3 separate regions of the Homo sapiens genome follow, and regions 2 and 3 are each reported to be linked to region 1. Evidence: microRNA targets listed by miRTarBase, many of them from high-throughput screens and not tested one by one. Region 1 holds a microRNA gene; each other region holds the end of a gene's coding sequence.
What was found. The annotated mature microRNA hsa-miR-30d-5p reads UGUAAACAUCCCCGACUGGAAG and lies in region 1 at 2,836-2,857, opposite strand. An mRNA with a match to its seed (bases 2 to 7 or 8) in the 3' UTR can be bound and repressed. Matches are read on the target gene's strand: a 7mer-m8 pairs with bases 2 to 8, a 7mer-A1 pairs with bases 2 to 7 and ends in A, and an 8mer does both.

Region 2: the mRNA of PHTF2 is a reported target of hsa-miR-30d-5p. Seed matches in the 3' UTR shown: 8mer at 3,531-3,538 and 7mer-m8 at 2,788-2,794.
Region 3: miRTarBase lists SLFN5 as a target of hsa-miR-30d-5p. The part of its 3' UTR that is shown has no 7-base or 8-base seed match.

The regions. Positions count from the first base shown.
Region 1 is chr8:134,802,084-134,806,334 of GRCh38, forward strand. MIR30D (microRNA 30d) reads right to left here and starts at 2,862; the gene lies at 2,793-2,862. It also overlaps a transcript of ZFAT not described here.
Region 2 is chr7:77,954,279-77,958,529 of GRCh38, reverse strand. PHTF2 (putative homeodomain transcription factor 2) reads right to left here. Exons shown (of 19, transcript NM_001395272.1): 19 at 1,305-3,672. The coding sequence ends at 3,652. Among named protein-coding and RNA genes, the nearest start is that of DDX3ILA1, 34 kb to the left of the region's middle.
Region 3 is chr17:35,265,105-35,269,355 of GRCh38, reverse strand. It overlaps SLFN5 (schlafen family member 5), which reads right to left. Exons shown (of 5, transcript NM_144975.4): 5 at 1-4,251. The coding sequence ends at 3,468. Among named protein-coding and RNA genes, the nearest start is that of SLFN5, 24 kb to the right of the region's middle.

The DNA of each region.
Region 1 (4,251 bases):
TTGGAAAGCTAAAGCAAAGACAGCAGTGAATGTCAAATTACTAGGAAGTTTGTAATATGGTACAGATAAGAAAAAGGCAATGCCAAAACATGTAGCATGGGTCCACCCACAATTAACCAGGCTAGGCAAAGTGTGGCAGAGACTATCTGAAACAGCCTTATTTTAAAAAGTAACTAAGCCCAAACTGATATTCAAACTAAAAAAAAGAAACAAAAATATTACCTGAGCACACACAGCAAATAATGCACATTGATCCAATGAATAAAGCTGTAACAAGAGTAGAAGGGAATCACAGAACATGCTCGACGCAATACCACATGCATGCTGGGGTTTATAGGTTCACAGTCCATTTCTGGGTAACCTCAAGCCCATGACTCATGTAGAAGGAACTGAGGTGTGGAGATCAATGAGAACAAGTCCAACAGTGTATTTATATGACTATTTCTAACCAAGAATATTTGTACAAAAGCATCTAATTTGAAATAAATTGGAAGACCCAATTTTGTAATTAGTTATTTGCTTTAAAAAGTTGTCCCTAAGTCATTTCAGACCATATACTCAGGATAAAATACTGTCATTTACAGAATGGTGTTCAGTAACTAAAAATGTTTTACTTTAAATATCAATTGGTAGAACAAATCTTAAATAATAAGTAATTTCTGTGCTTTCTAAGTCCTATCAATGAATACCACAATTTTTTTCTTCAACACTAAGTTAAGGGCTAGGGAAACAAGTTATTACAGGCTTATTGACAAATACTGATGATCTAACATTTCAAGCCATTTGCTATAAATAATCAATTGCTAACCTTATAGGCCAATGGGAAGTTAGTGGTTCTTCAATATAAAAACATAAAGAAGCCATCTGAAAACTACTAAAAAAGGCTGTACCTATGTATTATACTATACTGAAGCAAGGGCATCCAGAATTAAAACTGACATCGTCTTTGATTCACCTCATTAGAGGCAGAATAATATAGAACAAATGTTACATAACACAGATTGCCCCATTAATCTGTAGCATCTAGGGATAACTGGCCTAGCTGGGCAGAGTATAACAGCTTTATTATAAAGAATGCCTACCCCCTCATTTAGCTTAGGTTTGGCCTTATCATTTTGAAAAACCTTTCAAATTTCACTGCATAAATTATGCATCCATCTTACTAAATTTTAAAGCAGTATATCAAAATTTTTCATAAGAAATAAACAGTGTCACCTGGTCAAACAAAATAATCCTATTACCACAGAACACATTACATTCTACCTTTGGCAGGGAAGACTTCTGAGCTCAGCAATAACTATCCTTTCACTGCTATTTGAGTCTAAGGTTTCCAATGTGCTAAAACAGAGGGCCACAGAATATGCAATAAATCTGCTTTATTTAGAGTTCATAGGAAGGGATGCTTGATGCATGCTAATCATCCAGCCTGAAAATTGTATTTACAAGTTGGAAAGCCACCTGAGTCTGAAGCAACTGACCCCCATCCCCAAATAAGTCTTATAAACTACTACTCTAACAAAAGAGCATTTAAAAAATAAAAGCTGTAGCACAAATACATCTGGGGTAACTACATTATGACCAAAACTGTCATTTGCTCATCTGGATAAAAGATAAGAGGCAACAGTAGACACTGCTGCAATAAGATAATATAAAATCATTACTAAAGTACTATACATGCAAGGTGCTTTACTTGCTGTTTATAACAGGAAAAAATAGAATTATCAAGATTTAATGTCTCTGACCTCAGAAAGCTTATAATCTAATCAAAGAAAATAAGCATGTAAATACATTAGATTGGCAAGACCTTTATCTTTTGGTGGTTTAATCATGTATGGAACCTAACATAGTATGTTTAGCAGTTTAATAAAAATAAATGATTTAAAAAAACCAATGCTTTATTGAAAAGAAAAATGCCAATAAAATAGAAATGTTTTCCAGTGTCTGAAAGACTAACAGAAATAAAATAACAATTTTTTAAAACTCAGAAAATAGTTGCTATAAAATTATACATTATCAATTAGTCCACACTGAGTGTCATCTGTGAGAAAAGCCCTGGATTATTCAGATCTGTGGGGAAACACAAAAAATAGATACAATACAGCTGCTTTCAGGGCAGCTATATTTTAAGGAGGAAGCAATAAATCTGAAAGCAACAATCTGAAAATACTTAGGAAAAATATTAATATAAAAAGACATGCATACCCATTAGCAAATGTAAACAGGCTTAGTGGCTTGACGTCTTGCAGTTTTTCTTAGAGGAGAGTTCTGATTAGGAGCTGTAATATCACTCAGGGTGAGGGGAACAGGAAGTGGGGGGCTAAGAGGACGGAGAAAAATGTTGCACACACATCTCTTTTAAGTATAGGGAAAGCTGAAATTTCTAGATTGCATACTGCTGGGTGGTAGTGATGAAATTATTCTCCAGAACTTCCACAGAATTTACAATGGAGAAAATCAGTCTCCTGAATTGTTGGGATGTTAAACTCCAGCCTACTTGGAAAGGTTATAAAGACTAAAATTTCATTGACAGGGCAGAAACAGGAATAGGCGGTGACACTTTTTATTTAACTAAATTCTCTAAGGCCCAGCAGCAGCACGCTAAGTCTGGGAAGCTCGAGACGGCATATCCTGTTATTAGGAGAGCACCCTACATTCAACTATCATAATACGTGCACTGTCAGTGCAGTAAAAGAATGCAGCTAAAGATTTCTGAGGTTTTCCCACACATTTTATAGCCTCCTCAACTCCACTCCGGGACAGAATTATATCAAGAGGATGTCTGTGAATAGCCGGTAGCAGCAAACATCTGACTGAAAGCTTAGCTGTGTCTTACAGCTTCCAGTCGGGGATGTTTACAACAACAGACTTTCTGAACAAGAAATTTAAGAGGAGGAACAGACATAAATGTTGCCAGTCATCATCTTCAGCTAATAATTTATATAATTTCTAGTGCTGAACAATAGCTGTGACATCTTGAAACAAAAATGATAAAGTTAATGCTAATAATTAAAGAGAAAGTGGTTCACCAAGTGCAATTTCTCCTAAATAAATCTAATTTTAAAAGAAAATACGCATTACAAATTTATCTTGGTAAGTATGAAACATTAAAGATATTACCCTGATATCCTACATGAGGATACATTTTTCCAACATATGCAAAAATAAGTTTTCTTCTCCCTAGAGTTTCAAAATAGTAAACACATTAGAATGATAACCCTAATGATCAGTGACCATACATTTCATGGATGCCTGCTGCCCTGACGTTATTGTTAAAAATGACTCCTTTTATTTAAAAAAGCGTTAATTTAGTTGACAATGAATAGAGTGGGTTTTCCTGGCAGAGGATCTAAACTGAGTAAGAATCTAACACTTTCTTCCCCTGTCTCCAGCTGATTTAGGTTAGGGATGTACAGTTCAAGGAAATGAGCAAAACAAAGAGGATAATAAAAGAAACTCATGATCTTAAATTTGTTTATAAGGCAATATACTAAAACCATTTTGTTTCCACACCACTTTTCTGAAAGAAAGGAAAAAGACTAAGTGAAATATAAGTAAATCTGCATTCCATCAAAAACCAAGATTTGCTTTAATTTAAAATATGTAAAATTGCCAGGCACAGTGGCTCATGTCTATAATCACAGCACTTTGGGAGGCCGAGGCAGGTGGATGGGTAGATCGCTTGAGTCCCGGAGTTCAAGACCAGCCTTGGGCTAAGTGGCAAAACCCTACCTCTAAAAACATACAACATATTAGCTGGGTGTGGTGGTGCATGCGGTCCCAGCTATTCGGGAGGCTGAGGTAAGAGGATCCCTGAGCTTGGGAGGTGGAGGCTGCAGTGAGCTGAGCTCATGCCACTGCACTGCAGCCTGGGCGACAGAGTGAGACCCTGTCTCAAAAAAAATAAAAATAAAAATAAAATAAAATATGTAAAGTAACCTTCTTTTGGGGAAAAAAACTATGAAAACAATTAAAGTCCACAATTAAGTCACAGTGATTTATGAAATGATTTAAGAAATGAACATACATACATACATGAGCATGCATATGTACACACACACTCTACAGAATAACTACTGAAGAAAACCAATATACAAATTCTGAGAGACTATTAATTTCCTAATACCAAATTTTTTGAGAAACTATGAGAAAAGGATTTCAGTTGCTGATATTTACCCTGTGATAATATTTAACGGTTGCTCTCTGAAATACTTTTTGTTTAATGTTGTAAATAACTCTACCCATTATATAAAT
Region 2 (4,251 bases), not on the chromosome of region 1:
GCCTATGCATCTCCTCCATCATCTGTATCCTTTATAATAAACCTGTAAAAGTTAAATGTTTCTCTAGCAAATTAACTGAACCCAAGAAGAGGGTCGTAGGAACCCTGATGGGGAGGCAGATCACAACCTGGGTCTTGTGCCTGGCATCTGAAGTGGGGGCAGTCTGGTGGGAATGAGCCCTCAACCTGTGGGATCTGACATTCTTTTGGGTGTAGTGTTAGAGCTGAGTTAAATTCTAAAACACCCAGTTGGTGTCTGCCAGAGAATCTGGTATCAGAAGTGTTATGCTGAATGGTGTGAGAGTAGAAAAAAACACTTGGGTTTTTCCCATCCCTAATGGCCTTTTAGATTCCCCAGGCAGTAAGTACTTTGGGGAGCCAGTGCTACTGTTAAGCATTTGTGGTGTCTTTTTGTATAGGCTTGGCAGAAAAAAAGTTGAGAATTATGTTCTAAGTGATACAGCAAACAATTAAGAAGTGCCAGTCATATTGCTATTTTGAAGTATGAAGGGAGATTCATTAAAAGAGCCATTTGTAAGCTTAAAGTAAGTTTGAAAGTGCACTTGAATTAATAGTCCTAGATTAATTTAAGCCCAGTGAACACTTGGACCAATCAGATAACAGAAATATTAGAATGTTTAACCATCCTACTGTTGATCATAATCTCTCATGCTAAATTCATGTGGCAAAATCATTTGTTTAAAAACACCACTATCGGCTGGGCACAGTGGCTCACGCCTATAAGCCCAGCACTTTGGGAGGCCGAGGCAGGCAGATCATGAGATCAGGAGTTTGAGACCAGTCTGGCCAACATAGAGAAACCCCATCTCTACTAAAAACACAAAAAATTAGCAGGGCGTGGTGGTGGGCGCCTGTAATCCCAGCTACTCAGGAGGCTGAGGCAGGAGAATGGTGTGAACCTGGGAGGCAGAGGTTGCAGTAAGCCAAGATTGTGCCATTGCACTCCAGCCCAGGTGACAGTGTGAGACTCCGTCTCAAAACAAACAAACAAACCAAAAAAACCACTATCTTTTCACAATGAGCTTTAATATTTCAGGCCACAGCCAGTTTGCTGTATTCAAAAACAAAGAAGCAAACAAACATTAATGATATAATATCATTTTGGTGATGAAAAACCTGTGTATTATTCTTTCATGTTCTAAGAATCATAACAAAATCTAAAATGTTGGAAAGTTATAAAAAATTTATTTTCACTCCCCCCAAATCTAACTAAATTTTATGTTAAGTAAACACAAAATTACCATAGAAATGTATATGACCTGAAAATTAAAAAAAAAAACACCGTCAGTCACAGAATGTTTTATTTTAAACTTACTGTAAAACTTTCAAATACAACACATGTGGCAAAGAAACAACAGTTCACACACAACATCTGCCACAATTCTCTTTGAACTGCCATTTCTATATTATGTGATATTTTACAATTTCTTTCAATTTCTTACATTCATGGTATTCTTAAAGGCAGCAATGTCAATTTTTCTGCTTTGAAAATAGTTCAGTTAATGTTCTGAAATTGCTTAACATGACATTTTCCTTTTAGTATTCTACTGCTGCCCACACTGACATAATTCAACATATTATTTATAAACTGTTGAGAGGTATACTGTACTTAATAAATCAACTCCCAACTCTAAGTTAACCTCAATCTAAAACAAGCATTTTCTTAAACCAGTATACTCAGCTACTTTTCTCAAAAATATTTCCATTCTGAAATAAGATTTTTTGTGAGATACAATAGTTTCATCTTTTATTCCTAACAGAACTCATGCCGTACTTTTTTTCTCAAAATATATTTGATATATTCTGTGCAAAATGTTAAGTTCTGTATAGGCATGTACCTTATATTGAAAAAGTTTATAAAACATAATTCCTAAAAACAACCTCAACATTAGACAATAGAGGAAGGAAAAACATCAGACAAAGCCTAAGTTTTCACATGAGAAACTAAGTATGTTCTTAAAGCTCCAGTATTACATTCCTTGAAAAAACTCAGAATGCACTTTGGTCATTATTAAACATATTTGAACATAGGCAAATAAAATGAAATGCTTTCTGTTGTTTTTCATAGAAAGAAAAAACATACTACACAATGAGGCTGAATTGAGGCTGATCAAAAGGAATGGTAAGAGCAAAGTGATATGACATGGCTCTGTTCTCCACACATTCCTGATTTTAAGATTATGATTTAGGGATTAGAACTGCACCAATCAAATAAATTATTTACAATTAATCGTCTTAAAGTTCTTAAAATATGGTAAAAATATGAGGATATTCCACATGATACACTTTGCACCAAGAAAATTCTAGATTGTTTCAAATAAATTTTTAGAAACCAGATGCCCAGTTTAAAAAAAATTGCAAAAACTGTTTCATGTTTCATGTAATTTCTAAAATACTCGATTGTACAAATATAACAACTTAAAATCAAGGCCCAATGTAAGACACTATCATATTTGCCCGATTTACCTAACACACCAACATGATAAGTTCTCATTGGACACTTGGCAAATTATTTGTTGGGGAGGTTAAAAGCATCTAAAATAGCCCTTATATAATGGGGGTGGGGTGGGGAGAATGCACCAGATAAGTTTAGAGGATAGAATTTGCAAGCTGAAGCTGTCTTTTCTGAAAATTTGGATACAGTTTTACAACTAGCAATTAGAGAAATATTTTATTGGTTCTTAGCCTTATTCTTCAGTTGTTCATTTCAGTGTGGTATGAATAGCCTACACTAGAGTGTACCATGGGGAGAAAATTATTTACTTGAGTAAACATAATGTACTTTAGTAATATCAGTAGGCACTTCACTTGTGAGATGAGTATATACCTCACTCAAAAGGATACCATATCATGCCCTAGTATACTATAACAGATCCCATATAAAGATACGCATTAAAAGTAACAATTTTAAAAAGTGCACATTTTGAGCATGCACAGTTGGAGCTGTGCAAACAGCCCAGTGTTTCAAATAAATACAAGTATTACTAGTTAATTTTTATCAAAATATCTTACAGTATGGTAACCATTTACAATTATTGCTCTATTACAAGTTTTATCATCAAAGAGCACTTGTTGACCTGTTATATAATACCGTATATATTAATACTGAAGGGTGCTTAAACTGTAACTTAATCAGTTTGGATCCTGGCATTGTTCCAAAATAATTCAAGAGAAACCCTGACTGGATCTTGATTTACCAAAGAAAATGTTTTATGTGTATAGCTGAGTTCAATGCAATATTCCAAAGTTAAAGAATTTTTCCTCAAGTAAGGCAAGTTCACGGCATTGATGGAGAAACGGTGCTGAGCAATGGCTTCTATTTTCACAATTTGTTATTTTGCCAATTATTTATGACCAATTACCAGGATCTCAAGTATCTGGATATCAGTTTCATCACCCTTTCAACAACTAAGTACATCAATGCTTAAAAATAAAAATATAAAGACTAAAATAAATGTAAAAAAAAGTGAACCAGTAAAATAAATATAAGAATTGCACAAGACAGTCTGATGTAAACACTTCAACTCCCTAGCTGAGACTCCTGAAGCAAAGAATCAGTGACAAGCTTTCAGGCAGCTTAGTCAGTACTCTTATTCTGGAAAAGAGGCTACATCTTCTTTTCTTTGAATTGTCATGACTTAATCTTCCATAGCTAGAAAAAAAAAAATAGAAGTGGTGACAAGCCAGTTTTAATATCAAAGCTTAAATTATATCATATAACACCATTTTTAAATTCAAATTTCATTCACAAACAAGTGCAGTTTCTAATATTTTAACTCCTTTATCCTTTTAAGAAGAACTCACCTTAAACACAAACAAAAATGTGAAAATCAGATTTCTATTGCTTTCTCTTGAGAAGTGGCTATATATATATATATATATATATATATATATATACACAGTACTTGTTTAATATGATTATCTTACACCTTCCTAACAGTTAGTTGTGCATATATTGGAAGATGTATGCATTGCTATACAGATAAATAATACAACTTTTGGCCAAAAATAGAAATAAGGCTTTTTTCTTTTTTATCACCTAAATTAAAGCTTTATTAGTAAAAATAAATACTTCTTGCTAGGCGCGGTGGCTCACACCTGCAATCCCAGCACTCTGGGAGGCCAAGGTGGGTGTATCACTTGAGGTCAGGAGTTCGAGACCAGCCTGGCTAACATGGTGAAACACTGTCTCTACTAAAAATACAAAAATTGGCCAGGCGTGGTGGTGCAC
Region 3 (4,251 bases), not on the chromosome of region 1:
TGTGAATGGATTTAAACTTAACTTTGGTCCAATTATAATAATCTTTTATTTGTACATGTTGCTTGCTTAGCTAGATTTCCTTACTGAGTAACTTTTCTTCAAGAATGATTCATGGGTCCTGTATTTCTAGAACTCTTTTATGTTCAAAAATACCCATGTGCTGCCTTTGTACTAGAATAATATTTTGACTAGGTTTAATATTTTTAGGTCAAAATTTGTTTCCCTAAGAACTGTACACATGTTGCTTCACTGCCTTCTTAGATGCTTCTGGTCAAGATAGAGGAACAGGGACCATATTTATCCTCCCTCCTGAAACAATTGCAAAATAAGACAAAATATATGAAACAATTGCAAAATAAGGCAAAATATATGAAACAACAGGTCTCGAGATATTGGAAATCAGTCAATGAAGGATACTGATCCCTGATCACTGTCCTAATGCAGGATGTGGGAAACAGATGAGGTCACCTCTGTGACTGCCCCAGCTTACTGCCTGTAGAGAGTTTCTAGGCTGCAGTTCAGAGAGGGAGAAATTGGGTACAGTGGGACAGGCCTTCAACTCTTGTTTTATTGAATTTATGAACTTCTTAAATTCTTCTATGGCAGGAGACATCTATGGGGAGGCTTTGTTTGTTTTTTGAGACAGGGTCTCACTTTGTCGCCCAGGCTGAAGTACAATGGCCTGATCTTGGCTCACTGTAACCTCTGCCTCCTTGATTCAAGCAATTCTCTTGCCTCAGCCTTCTGAGTAGCTGGTATTACAGGCATGCACCACCACACCCAGCTAATTTTTGTATTTTTAGTAGAGACAGGATTTCACCACGTTGGCCAGGCTGGACTTGAACTCCTGACCTCAGGTGATCCACCTGCCTTGGCCTACCAAAATGCTGAGATTACAGGCGTGATCCACTGCGCCCAACTTATGGTGAGTTGTCTTTTGTCCCCTGAGTTATATATCCTTTCAGGATGGGTTCTTCATCTGGCTCATGTCATATTTCTTTTCTACATTTTTCCCCATTGTCTTTCGCCTAATGATCAGAACACTTATCTTTCTAATGCTTAATCAGGGCAGCTGGGTAGAGTCTTTCTTTTTACCTTAAGATAGTATAGAAGGGCTCTCTTTGACAACTTTCTTAGATGAAGTAGACTAGTTTGGCTTCTTCTCCAGTGTATAGCTGGAGGCCTGGGTGGTGTCTTCCATCTACTTTTGTGTAGCCTGATATGATCTGGTGTGAGATGAGGCCCTCGCTGTTAACCTGGTTTCTACTCTTTATTGTTGCCTAGGAACTTCCATTAAATCCACTGAATTCCATGAAGGAGGCAAAGCATCCAGGAATAAGACACAGCCCCCTTCATTGAATTCATGTGAAATCCTGGAAAATCCCTCCTGTGTCCACGGAGAGTCCCTGGGGACAATCAGGAGTTTCTGTGCTCAAGGGTCTCCCTGGCATTTCCCTGAGCTGCCTGCTCAATACCTCCGCCACCACCCTTCAAACTGGCCATATTAACAAGAATTCTGGTTTTCTTTTCTTTATGTGACATCTATTCATGACTACACTGGGCAGATGAGATAGTAGCTATGCCTTTATATAAAACTTTTAAATTCTTTTTTTTTGTTTTATTTATTTAATTTTTGGAGACAGGGTCTTGTTCTGTCACCCAGACTGGAGTGCACTGGTATGATCATAGCTCACTGTAACCTCAGACTTCTGAGGTCAAGTGATCGTCCTGCCTCAGCCTTCTGAGTAGCTAGGACTCCAGGTGTGCATCACCATTCCCAGCTAATTTTATTTATTTATTTATTTGTTTGTTTGTTTGTTTGTTTTTGTAGAGACAGGGTCTCACTATATTGCTCAAGCTGGTCTTGAACTCCTGGGCTCAAACAATCCTCCCACCTTGGCCTCCTAAAGTCCTGGGATCACAAGCATGAGCCACCATGCCCAACCTTTTCTAGTTTTTAAATTTTCATACATATCTATTAGATGTTTATAGTGTAAGGTTGAACTCCATTCTTTGCTTCTCTGTTGCTGGTAAATTTTTGGGTATATTTTTACTAATTTTGCACATTCTTTTACATATTGGTAAAGGAACAGTCTGTGATCTGGATTTATTCAGATCCTTATTCAGAATTACCAATTGTTTTATTAATCATTTTATCTTAAATGTGTCTCTACTTACTAGTGATTTGCAGTATATTCCAAGTTAGTTGTAAAAACATTTCACAATAGACTAATTTCTTGCTTTCCTGTGAAATTGTCTCAAATTTAAAAAGTAAAGTTCTTAATATTGTAAGTAGCTGCCAGAAATAAACCAATTCTAGCTTCAAGTTCATACTTCTTACAATGAGAATTTTAAATTTCTTTATTCTTGGGAAATAGCAGGGCCTTGCTGTTTTTAATAGTGAATTAACTCTGAATTTTTTAGTTTCTGTCTCTCAGAAAAGATGGATTTGTTTGGCTTTAAATATTGAGAGAGTTTCTAGAGACCCACAGGAAATGAGAAATTTGCACTTTTGTAGCAATGGCTTTTGAAAGACTAGCTAACATCCTGAAGACTCAGCAGAAGAAAGATATTAAACTGACTTTGTCGTTTTGTTGATTATTAAATTAAATGGAAAAACAAAATGTAACCTTTGAGTCCAATAGACTCATCCCCCTAGGCTCTCTATCATCTTCAAATCAATCAGTAAAACACAGTGTGCCTCCCTGGGGGACTGTGGCAGTCTTACCTTCATGTAGTAACCTAAGACGCTCCATAAGAATAAAAAATCAGAGCTAAGGAACAGATTCCACATAACCAAAAGGCTCACAAAAAGCATTTTAAAATATAGTGATCAAAAACACTAATGTCGTTAAAAGAAAAAGCAGAAAATAATAAAGTAATATAATGTGGTCTTGCAAAAAACAGTCTGTGATCTTACATTTCAAAACATGTCTTGCCCGTTCCCGGCACCTACAAGGCCAGATGAGCTACCTGCTCCATCCTTCACATTCTCGCTGCACGTCCCATTCAAGCTCTTCTGCAAGTGGCCATGTTAAAAATTTATAAAAATATCCGAGTCTGCCTGGCACGCTCAGAGATTCTCATGACAAGTTCTTCCCTCACTGAGCACTTCCCTGACCACCCAAAATAATCACCCCCTCCATCTACCTACACACATGTGCACGTGCGCGCGCGCACACACACACACACACACACACACACACACACACATCTCTGAGTCTCACGGTCCTCTAATTACTGATATCCCTTTTTACCATGGGAAATTCCTTGTCTATCTGTGTATTTGTCAGTGGTCTGTCTCTGCCCTAAAGGAGGAATCTTACATCGATTCGTTCTCAATCCCCAGCACCTAGAAAAGTATGTGACTTAATAAGTGAGTGTGTGCTTACATGTTTGGATTAAATGGTTTCACAGTTAATTAGAGATGAGAACCACTTAATTGTTTCTTAGGCTTGGGTTTCCTGTCACACAGAAGCCTTCAGAATATACAGATGTCTTTTTGCCCTAGAAGCCAAACAGAGCAGAAGATTGTAGGCCCCAGCCGGTGGGGCTACTCCTGGATTGATTCCAAACACGATATTTCTTTCCAGGCCTGAAAATCGACAGACACTGTCCAACACAATGTGATCGGTTAGAACATCCGACGCATCACCGATCTGTAGTAACAGATCAGACTCCTCATGGAGCTGAGACAGTTTTCTCTTCCTCATTGCTGTTAGAAGCCTGTCTTTATATTTTTCCACTTCACTTGCTTTGGTGAAAAGCACAGCAATATCCTTCGGAGAATAACCATTCCGCAAGAGAAAACGGCATTTATTCGCTACATAGATCAGTATCTCCTCCAAGTTCAAGTCTTCAATAATCTCTAAGTTGCCTGGGACACCTTGAGCCCATTTAGGTTCATAGAGCATCACCAGGGACCCAGGGGGGAGGTTAGGTGGAGGATTTTGTCGGGCTTCCTGCATTACTTGTTGTAGGTAATTAGCTATTGGACCTGCATTGCGGACCACTCTGTTGATCTCTTCTCTTGGATACTGGTCTGAGGGAGGGGGGAGGCCACTGCAACTCAAGTGATAGGTCTGAAAGTAGTCCAGAAAGATCCAGAGAACTCCTGGGCCATCCCTTGCTGTCTGAGTGATGAACTTTGCTTTCCCATACCAGTCCCCATCTTCAGTACGGAAATTCTGAGCGTCATCAATGATAATGTGCTGGATGTGTTCAAAGTTGTTTTTCATGAAGGTTTTCCGG